2 linked regions of the Homo sapiens genome follow. The protein of the gene in region 1 purifies or fractionates together with the protein of each later gene. This does not show direct contact. Each region holds a gene or a part of one and is shown on either strand. Other genes may lie near its edges.

What was found. Proteins that work in one complex are often made in the same cells at the same time.
Region 2: the proteins of ZDHHC18 (region 1) and RXRA purify together in Homo sapiens (affinity purification with mass spectrometry, with the first as the bait; one large-scale study listed by BioGRID). This does not show direct contact.

What each region holds. Positions count from the first base shown.
Region 1 is NC_000001.11:26,832,797-26,837,712, reverse strand, and holds part of ZDHHC18 (palmitoyltransferase ZDHHC18), read right to left. Parts: intron 1-4,916. UniProt on the Homo sapiens protein: Palmitoyltransferase that catalyzes the addition of palmitate onto various protein substrates, such as CGAS, HRAS and LCK. Acts as a negative regulator of the cGAS-STING pathway be mediating palmitoylation and inactivation of CGAS.
Region 2 is NC_000009.12:134,406,015-134,410,930, reverse strand, and holds part of RXRA (retinoic acid receptor RXR-alpha), read right to left. Parts: intron 4,372-4,916; exon of another isoform or gene 3,439-4,371; intron 2,783-3,438; coding exon 2,632-2,782; intron 1,992-2,631; coding exon 1,812-1,991; intron 1-1,811. UniProt on the Homo sapiens protein: Receptor for retinoic acid that acts as a transcription factor.

The sequences.
Region 1 (4,916 bases):
AGGTCAGAAGTTCAAGACCAGCCTGGCCAACATGGTGAAACCCCATCTCTACTAAAGATACAAAAATTAGCCAGGCATGGTGGTGCATGCCTGTAATCGCAGCTACTTGGGAGGCTGAGGCAGGAGAGTCACTTGAACCCAGGAGGTGGAGGCTGCAGTAAGCTGAGATCACACCATTGCACTCCAGCCTGGGTGACAGAGCGAGACTCTGTCTCAAAAAATAAATAAATAAATAAATAAATAAATAAATAATATACATAATATATTAAATATGTTAAATATATTATACATATTAAATATATGTTAAATACATATTATGCATATTAAATATAGATGTAAAATGTATATTATACATATTAAATATGTTAAATATATTATACATATTAAATATGTTATATATTATACATATGTAGTAAATATATAAATGTATATTTTATATATATATATATATATTTTTTTTGAGACAGAGTCTCACTCTGTCGCCCAGGCTGGAGTGCAGTGGCGCCATCTCGGCTCACTGCAAGCTCCGCCTCCCAGGTTCACACCATTCTCCTGCCTCAGCCTCCCGAGTAGCTGGGACTACAGGTGGCCGCCACCACACCCAGCTAATTTTTTTTGTATTTTTTTTAGTAGAGATGGGGCTTCACCTTGTTAGCCAGGATGGTCTCGATCTCCTGACCTTGTGATCCACCTGCTTCGGCCTCCCAATGTGCTGGGATTACAGGCATGAGCCACTGCGCCCAGCTGCATTTAATATATATTTAATGTATATGAAATATATATATTATACATATATATTTAAAGATGAGCCATTTAGGAGGAAAATACTAAAGAAATGAAGGTACAGCCAGATGCGGTGGCTCATGCCTGTAATCCCAGCACTTTGGGAGGCTGAGACGGGCGGATCACAAGGTCAGGAGATCGAGACCATCCTGGCTAACACAGTGAAACCCCGTCTCTACTAAAAATACGAAAAATTAGCTGGGCGTGGTAGCAGGTGCCTGTAGTCCCAGCTACTCGGGAGGCTGAGGCAGGAGAATGGCATGAACCTGGGAGGCAGAGGTTGCAGTGAGCTGAGATTGTGCCACTGCACTCCAGCCTGGGCAACGGAGCAAGACTCCGTCTCAAAAAAAAAAAAAAGAAAAAAAGAAAAAAAAAGAAATGAAGGTACAAGGCGGGATGCAGAAGGAAAAATCACAAAGGCTGGACTCATATCACTGATATGCTGAGGGCACCAGAGAGTCACCCAAATTCTGTGGGGTTTGTGGGGGGACAGGGCAGGGGTGGGGAGAACAAATTTGGGATCTTGGAGAGATAACTACAATTGAAGGGAAAGGCCCAGTCAGGGCCTGTTCTGCAGAGCCCTGAGCCAGTTCAGGTGGAACACGAGGCAGGTCTGTCCAGGGGAAGTGGGCAGAGACGTCCTGGAGACAAAGGAGATGGGGTCTGGGAGCTGGTGTATGGCAGTGGAGAGAGACGCAGCCTCTGTGTCCGTCATGTGAACTGTAACAGGGTCTAAGTGAGCATCTGTCACTTGGATTTGGATGTCTCTATCACCTCCCATCAGACCAGGAGCTTCTGGGAGCAATATTGCTCTTCCCAACTGCCTAGAGCCTGCAGGGTGAGCCAGCTGCACAGCCCACCAGCCGGCAAGACAGGATCTCAGATGAGGGTGACCGAGTGCCCTGATTTTCCTGGGATTGAGTGGTTTCCTAAGACAGGAGACTTTCCAGGTGGTCCTGGGTAAACTGGGAGGAGCTGGTCACTCTACCTCAGACTGTCCCCACAGGGCAGGAGCCCTGGGCCAGACCTGTTGGGCTGGAGTTGCTGGGCTGGGGTGCCAAAGGGAAAAGCCCACACTGTCTACATGAGCCTAGGACCAGGTAATCAGTTCATGCTCACATGAACAGCACCACCTGCCTCAGAGACAGCTCCCAACCTTCTGGAAAAGGTTCAGTGATCTTAGTCCTGATCATTTTCGGGGAAATATGTTTTTGGTTTTTTTTGTTTTTTGAGACGGAGTCTTGCTCTGTCACCAGGCTGGAGTGCAATGGCGCAACCTTGGCTCACTGCAACCTCCGACTCCCTGGTTCAAGCGATTATTCTGCCTCAGCCTCCTGAGTAGCTGGGATTACAGGCACACGCCACCATGCCCAGCTAATTTTTGTATTTTTACTAGAGACAGGGTTTCACCATGTTGGCCAGGATGGTCTCAATCTCCTGACCTTGTGATCCGCCCGCCTCGGCCTCCCAAAGTGCTGGGATTACAGGCGTGAGCCACTGTGCCAGCCCTGGGAAATATGTTTTACTTTAATTAGTTAGAAGTCTCCTGGTCACACCCAAAAATTTGGCTTCTATTCAAGTTTGAGAATTCAAAGGCCTCCAAAATGCCACTTTTGCACTTTGCACCTGTTCGCCAAGAAAAGTCTTAGGGACATTCAGCGCCCTACAAGATTGATTCCACCCCATCCTTCCAACTGGAATATCTCTAATATCCCTAACTATCTGAAGTGCTCCTCATATTCTAGCCAACGTGGCCTGCTCAGTGGCCCGTTCCCATCCCTCCTCCTTCCCTCTGCCACTCTCTCTTCCCTCAGCTTTGTCTGCCTGAAGGGCTGCCTCCGCACAGCTCCTGTGCTTGAATTCCACCCAAACTTAAAGACTTAGCTCAAGCATCACTTCTCCAGGAAGCTTCTCCAGTCCCCCAGGCAGAAGATGCTCCTGACTCCTCTGACCCTCTTCTAAAGCCTGATCTCACTGGCAGTGGCTGGTCAGGGCTCCCACCTGGGGCCAACTTGTCTGGAACCCATGAGAGTAAGCTCCTATCAGATTCATTGTTGGCCCCCACCTGCCTTCACTCTGCTGTCAGGGGTCAGCATATAGAATTAACACACAAATGAACAAACCCATGATGCCCAACTGGGAGATGTCCTGACTGTTTCCTCACCTGTCACCCTGACAGAGCAAGGAGGGCCTTCACAGAAGCTCACCTATTCTTCAGTCATTCATTTACTCATTTAGCCAACGTCACTGAGCCTTCTACATGGCGACAAGGTGAACAAGATGCTGGAATTCCATGCCCTCACAGGCCAGCAGAAAGGATGATTTTGTAATGACCACCGTTGCAGCACAGGTTCAGAGAAGGAAGGAGAAGGTGCTCTGGGAATGTGCAATGGAAGGCCTGGCCCAACTGGGGTCAAGAAGGCTTCCCAGAGCACAGGAAACAAGTGGAGAAGAGGATGAAGGAGATGTGTCCCTGCTGCCATCTCAGAAGAGAAAGCAAGGGGTTTGGGAGTGAAAGGCACACACTCTGTCTCTGCTTCTTTATCCTGGCCCTGTGATCACCTGCCTCCGTTTCTCCATCAGTACAATTGGTTAACAGGGTCGCCCTCACTGGGCTGTTGTGAAGATTTGTGGGGATAATAGATGGAAAGCACTCAGCACACGGCCAAGCTCTTTCCAAGAAGGGGATTACTGCTGTCACTGTGATCCACGCAGCTCACAGGAGGCCGAGGATTCCAGGCAGCCAGACCTCTGGGTCCGGCTGAGCTGGACAATAATCCTGCCTCATGATTAGCCCTGACCAGAAGGGGAGGAAGAACGGGGCACAGCTGGGCCTCCCCAGCTGCCAGGTGGGCCAGCCCAGGTCAGACCGTGGGATCCTGAAGGAGTGGCCAGGGACCCAGAGTTTGAAGGGGTAGGACGCTGGATGTAGGTGAGAGGAGGTGGCCCTCGCAGGCGTGGCTGAGGATGGGGCTGGGCAGAGGAATGAGACAAAGAGCAGACAGAGCCCAGAGAACATCCTCTCCAGCTGCTCGCCCTCCCTCCCTCCCTGCTGCACAGAGTATTAGTGAAATGATTTCTAGCGATGGATGCAGCAGGGCTCTGACATTTACAGGCCACTAGATGTCTTCAGGGCCAGCTGGGTGTTTAAAAGCCTGTGTGAACACCATGCTGTTAGGGGAAGGAGCTAACCACGGACCGGAAACCCCCGAGGTGTGCAAGTAGCCACGTCACTTCTCAGCAGGAAGAGCTGGGGTGCAGCAAGCTGAGATTAGGGACCTGGCCCAGTACCCCGCCACCCCGGAACCCACACAGCAGTCTGAAAGGAATCAAGGGCCACCTGGGCTGCCTGGGAGCACAGGGTCTTTCCAGCCACTGCCGTTCCTCACACACGCCCAGGCTGTTTGCCACTCTGGGCTTTGGCCTTACTTTTCCCAGATCCCCGTATTTCTACCACACTCATCTCCAGTGCCGCCTCCTCCTAGAGGTCTCCCCTGACCACCTGACCTAAACTAGCCCACTCCCCAACACCTACTGGGCTCTTCCCTAGATAACCCCACCGTCAAGCCCTCATCTGTTCAGGCCGGTGCTTCTTTGCTCAGATGTCACCTCCTTCACAAGATGTTCCCTGGCCACCCTATGTAAAATCACACACCCTCCCTGTAGCCTTCATCCTCCTTCCCTCCTTTCTTCTCTGTCTGATATCCTAGATATTTAATTATTTGTTATTTATTGTCTCTTTCCTCCTCCTCAACTGTCAAGCTCCATGAGGACAGGGACTATTGTCAGTTTTGTTCACTGCTGTATCACATCTAGAAAAGTGCCTGGCACATAGTAGGGGGTCAATAAATGTTTGATGAGTGAATGAATAAGTGTATATGAATGTTTAAGAGCAGGTGCTCTAGACTGAGGTCTCATCTCAGCTCTTCTACTTACTTTGTGATCTTGGACCCTCTTTTGCCTTGATTTAATTAATCAGTAAAAGGAGAATGACAACAGTACCTACCTCATAGGATTACTGGGGGATTAAATAAGATCATGCATATAAAGAGCTTAAAACAGTGCCTAGCCCCCAGGAACTACTCAGCTCCACGCTGGCTGCCATCGGGGCCTTTGCTGGCTGGCCAGCATTT
Region 2 (4,916 bases), on another chromosome or scaffold:
CCCCTGGTTATCTGATGATCACTTTCAAAGGACAGCGAGCTTACTGCTGCAGGCCCAGGCCAGGCATCAGCCATGCACAGCGCTCTCATCTGCCCCCAAGCTCGCAGGGGTCTCCCTGAAGCCCCCAGGATCTGAGAGTGGTCTCGGCTAAACCAAGCTCTCTGTGCTGTGGCATCCTCACAGAGACTGCCAGGCTAAGGCTGCACACGAGGCCTTCCCCCCCCAGCTCCAGCCACGCCTCGGGCCTCCACCCCAGAACAGGCCAGTCTCCACGCCTGGGCACAGGGGCCCCGGCCACTGCCTACTATGCCTGCCCCTGTCCCAGTTTCCATCTTCCAGGGACAAGGCTGCACCTGCCACCACAGCAAGCCTCCCTGCCCACACCAGGCACCCGGAAGAACCAGACTGGGTCCACACCTCTCCAGGCTGGGTACACACCTCTCCAGGCTGGGCACACACCTCTCCAGGCTGGGCACATGCTCCTCTGCCCTCTGGTGAAAGCAACAAGGTCTGGATGGGGGCCAGGGCCCAGCATGTGACCCTGCGCAAGGCTTGAACCGTCTGCCCTCGGTTTCCCAACCTGCACAGCACAGGGTGGGCCTGAGCAAACGTCAGCACTCCATGAAACACGAATCCCCATCAGAAAGGCCTGACTGGCAGCACTGGGCATGGCCACACCAGCTCTGGAAGGCAGCTCTGCTATGCAGGCACAAGGACCTCACACCAGCCCATACACCACACTCAGCCTCGCAGCCCAAGGAGGACACCCTCCAGGAGCACGGCGCCTGGCAGAGGCTCTGATTTCTCAACAGGACCGTTAAGGCTGAGAAGACATACACAAGAGAGATGATGAAATGAAACTGCAGCACCAAGGTGGCCACTCAGGACATCCCTGACGGTGAGACAGTGGTGTGGGTCCTGTTTGGGGACCCCACCAGGGGCTGGCGGGGAGGAAGTAAGACACACCAGCCACACAGGTGTTGGGCCTCAGGAGCAGCACAGCAGAGGACAGAGGAAGGGTGTCCTGCAGAGCGGGGGGACAGGGACAGACCAACAGATCTTCACCCCAGACAGCACCTCCCACCTCCACAAGGCCCAGGGCACGGGACCCGATGGGAGGAACTGAGGCACACCCCCAAACGTGTGTGCAAACCATGACCCAGGGACCCACTAAGAGGCCAGGAATCGCCAAACCTGAGAGGGAAAGGGGATGTGACAGATGGGGAAACTGAGGACTACAGCCAGCCAGGACTGGGAAGTCACAGTGCCTGTGGGGCCCGGGACTCCGACCCAGGTCTGGCTGGATGACTTGACAATTTTGGTGACATCGGGGGAGGGACTTCCCTGCAAACCGCCCCGACACAGATTTGTTAATAAGACGAGCACAAAAACAAAAGGAAAGGAGGAACTGCTCCAAGAGCCTGGGGGCCATCCGGCGGCCCTGCGGGGTGCCACAGAGTTGGCCTCGGGAGGAAGCTGGCCCGGGACCACCCCTGGCATCCAACAGCTCAGAAGATGCCCCCGCTCCACCTCTCCAACCTAAGCAGTGCCACCTGAGGGTCTCCTTGACCATCCCCTCACCGGACAGCCAACGCCAGCCAGAACATGCCGCCCAGGACCCATGTGTGCCCACGCTCTGGGCCGCACGTGTGCCCACGCGCTGGGCCCCGCCCCCACTCCTGCCTTGGCCTTGCCATGCTTCTGTCCAGGCCACTCACTCCCTGTTGTCCATCTCGGGTGTCCACGCACAAGCCCGGGCCCCACTGTTTGTCCAACACCTGCCCGCGCCCCCACCCGACGCCGTGGCCTACCTTCCCGCTTCATGCCCATGGCCAGGCACTTCTGGTAGCGGCAGTACTGGCACCGGTTCCGCTGCCGCTTGTCAATCAGGCAGTCCTTGTTGTCGCGGCAGGTGTAGGTCAGGTCCTTGCGCACCGTCCGCTTGAAGAAGCCCTTGCACCCCTCGCAGCTGTACACTCCATAGTGCTTGCCTGCGGGACAGGGCAGAGCAGGGCTGGGGAGCACCCACCGCCCCGGCAGGGAGCCCACCCCCCATCCAACGCCGCCACTACCAGCTGGCGGGCCAGGCCTCAGAAAGGGACCTGCTGGTCTCCAGACCCCTGCCTGGGCTCAGACTGGGCCCCAGCCTCACTCTCTCTGCTCCTCCGAGGACAGCTTAGGAGTGGGGCAGGGACAAATCCCAGCCCACCAGGGACCAGGGCCCCAGGCAAGTCACCTGCTCTGTGTCTGCACTGTGCAGCCCGTTCTTCCCTCTCAGGCCGTTGGGGGTCAGTGGCACAACACGGGCCCCTTGCCCAGACCCAGCCAAGGGAGGAGGCGCAGCACTGGCTGCCCCCATGCTGACCTTGCCATCAGCAGCCACCTCCTCTCCGGAAGCCTCAGGCTGCCCTGTGCCCCACCCCACCCAACACTCACTGTCCCACAGACGTGAGAACCCTGGAATGGCCTCGCGGAGCCCTGGGAGTGGGGCATGGCCCAGGCACCTGCCTCCCTGCACCCTGGCCTTGGGTCCTGCTTGGCCCACAGGAGGGTGATTTGGGGAGGCCTCCAGACCCTGCAATGGCCTGACAACCCTGTCCCACCAGCCCCTGGCCCCCACAGCAGCGGTACCTGAGGAGCGGTCCCCGCAGATGGCGCAGATGTGCTTGGTGAAGGAAGCCATGTTTCCTGAGGGGTGGGCGGGGACCTTGAGGACGCCATTGAGGCCCAGGGGGGGCTTGATGTCCTCGCTGCTGCTGACGGGGTTCATAGGTGAGCTGAGCTGGGGGGGGCAACCACAGCAGTCAGCGGGGTGTACACCAGGTTTGTCCCTATGTCCCCCACGGCCCTGCAGCAAGGATGGCGCAGCTGTACCCCCAACTTCACACACAGACACCGAGGCTAGAGAGGGCCGTGCCCCCCACCCGCCACGCTGCTCCGGAGCAGCGGGGCCACTGTGCTTGCTCAGCAAGGCCAGCAGAGGCTGTGGCAACCTCAGGACTCGCCCGCAGCAGACCCCAGGCCTCTGTGGAAAAGGACCTTCAACACCCCCCCCAACACATGGGCGGTCCCTGCTTGCAACCCCCTGCCCGCTGCCCACCTAAATGAGAGCTGCCTCTCATTACTGAGCCCCTGGCAGTGCCCAGCCCCGCTGGGTGCCCCCGGACACTCCATGAGGCAGGCACTCTGGGGGGTCCCAACCCACACATGAGGACGCCGAAGCCCAGTTCCCAGGACGGAGGAGGGCTGGGGACCCCCCCAAGAACCACACATACACCCCACAACACCGCAGGGCAGGGGCCCTGGTCACGTGACCCAGGAGAGGGGAGTGGACACCCCCGGGCATCGGGTGGCACGACACCACTGGCCTCTCTGCACACCCCTCCGCCCCACCCGCCGGCCCGCACGCTGCCGCCCGGGCAAGCGTGGGAAACTCACCCGGTCACCCTGGCAACAGCTGCAGCGTGCAGTGACACAGCAGTTTTGGTTCCGCTGCCTCCACCCAGCTCTGCAGTCAGCGCCGAGGACCCACAGGCGCTTCCCGCTGCAGCCTGCCAGCCAGCCTGGCTGCGCAGGGCGGTAAGCGCTTGGCCAGGCAGCCCCCAGCCTCCACTTCTGCAAACCCCTGCCGCCGCTTGTGCGCAGGAAGCTCCCCTCCTTCCTTCCTCAGGCCTCCAAATCCCATCCCCCCTTCTCACGGGACAGGAAGAGTTTGAGGCTCAATGCAAGCAAAGCAGAAACCACCGCAAAGCCTCCTTTCACATGGACCTCGGTGCCTGGAATGAGTCTTCCAGCCCCAGCTTGTTCTGGCTTCTAGGTTCTTCCTCGATCTGCCCAGGTGGGCTGTGAGGCTTTACAAGGATGCTTGGTCCCTGCAGGACTCAGGTGGGCTGCGAGAGGCCAGGAGGTCCCCCGTGACAACTCAGCACAGTGGGGGTGCCATGAAGCTCCCACTGGAGAAGCGGGTGGCCACTGTGTGACTCACCAAATGCCCAGTGTTCATGTCCACAGGCAGCAGGTGCGCTTCTCAGAGAAGGGAGGGAACTGAAGGGGCAAGAGAAAGCCCCAGACGTCTGCAGAGGGGTGCGGTGCCTGGGCTTTGCACCCACACTTGACACTCCCTGCATGGGAAACCCTGGGTGTCCCAGATGCAGAGGCTGCGGCTCAGGGAGGTCAGGGGCTGGCCAAGGTCACACATGATCCCCCACGCTGCAGAAGGCGAAAGTGAAGCCCCTGGAGGGACAGAGCTCGTCCAAACTAAGTGCCCAGCTGGCCCTGCCCCGTGCTGGGCTCCGGGAGGCACCAGGGGACAAGGCCCTGCCCAGCCCTCCAGGGCTCGCTGGTCTAGTGGCTGTCTCGCTTGGAGGCACTGGAGGCCCCAGAGGCGGATCCCTGGCTCCGGATTCTGCCTGCCTCCTACGTTCTCGTGTGACATTCGGAAAATGATTTAATCACTGTGAGCCTGAGTTTCCTCGTCGGCAAAACTGGAACCATGTTAGTGCCTACTTCTTTTCTCTTTTTTTTTTTTTTTTTTTTCCGAAACAGGGTCTCACTCTGTTGCCCAGGCTGGAGGACAGTGGCACAATCACAGTCACTGCAGCCTCAAACTTCCAGGCCCAATTGATCCTCCTGCTTCAGCCTCCTGAGTAGCTGGGATTACAAGTCCATGCCACTGCACTCAGCTATTTTTTTTTTTTCTAGTGGTGGGGTCTCAACTATGTTGCCCAGGCTTGTCTCCAACTCCTAGGCTCAAGCAATCCTCCCGCCTCGGCCTCCCAAAGTGCTGGGATTACAGGCGTTGAGCCACCATGCCCAGCCAGTGCCTCTAAGAGCTGATTAAGTGTAACTGAGTCGCTCCATGTGCCAGGGCTCAGAGCAGAGCTCGCAGACAACTCACTGTCTTACAGGGAGGCCGG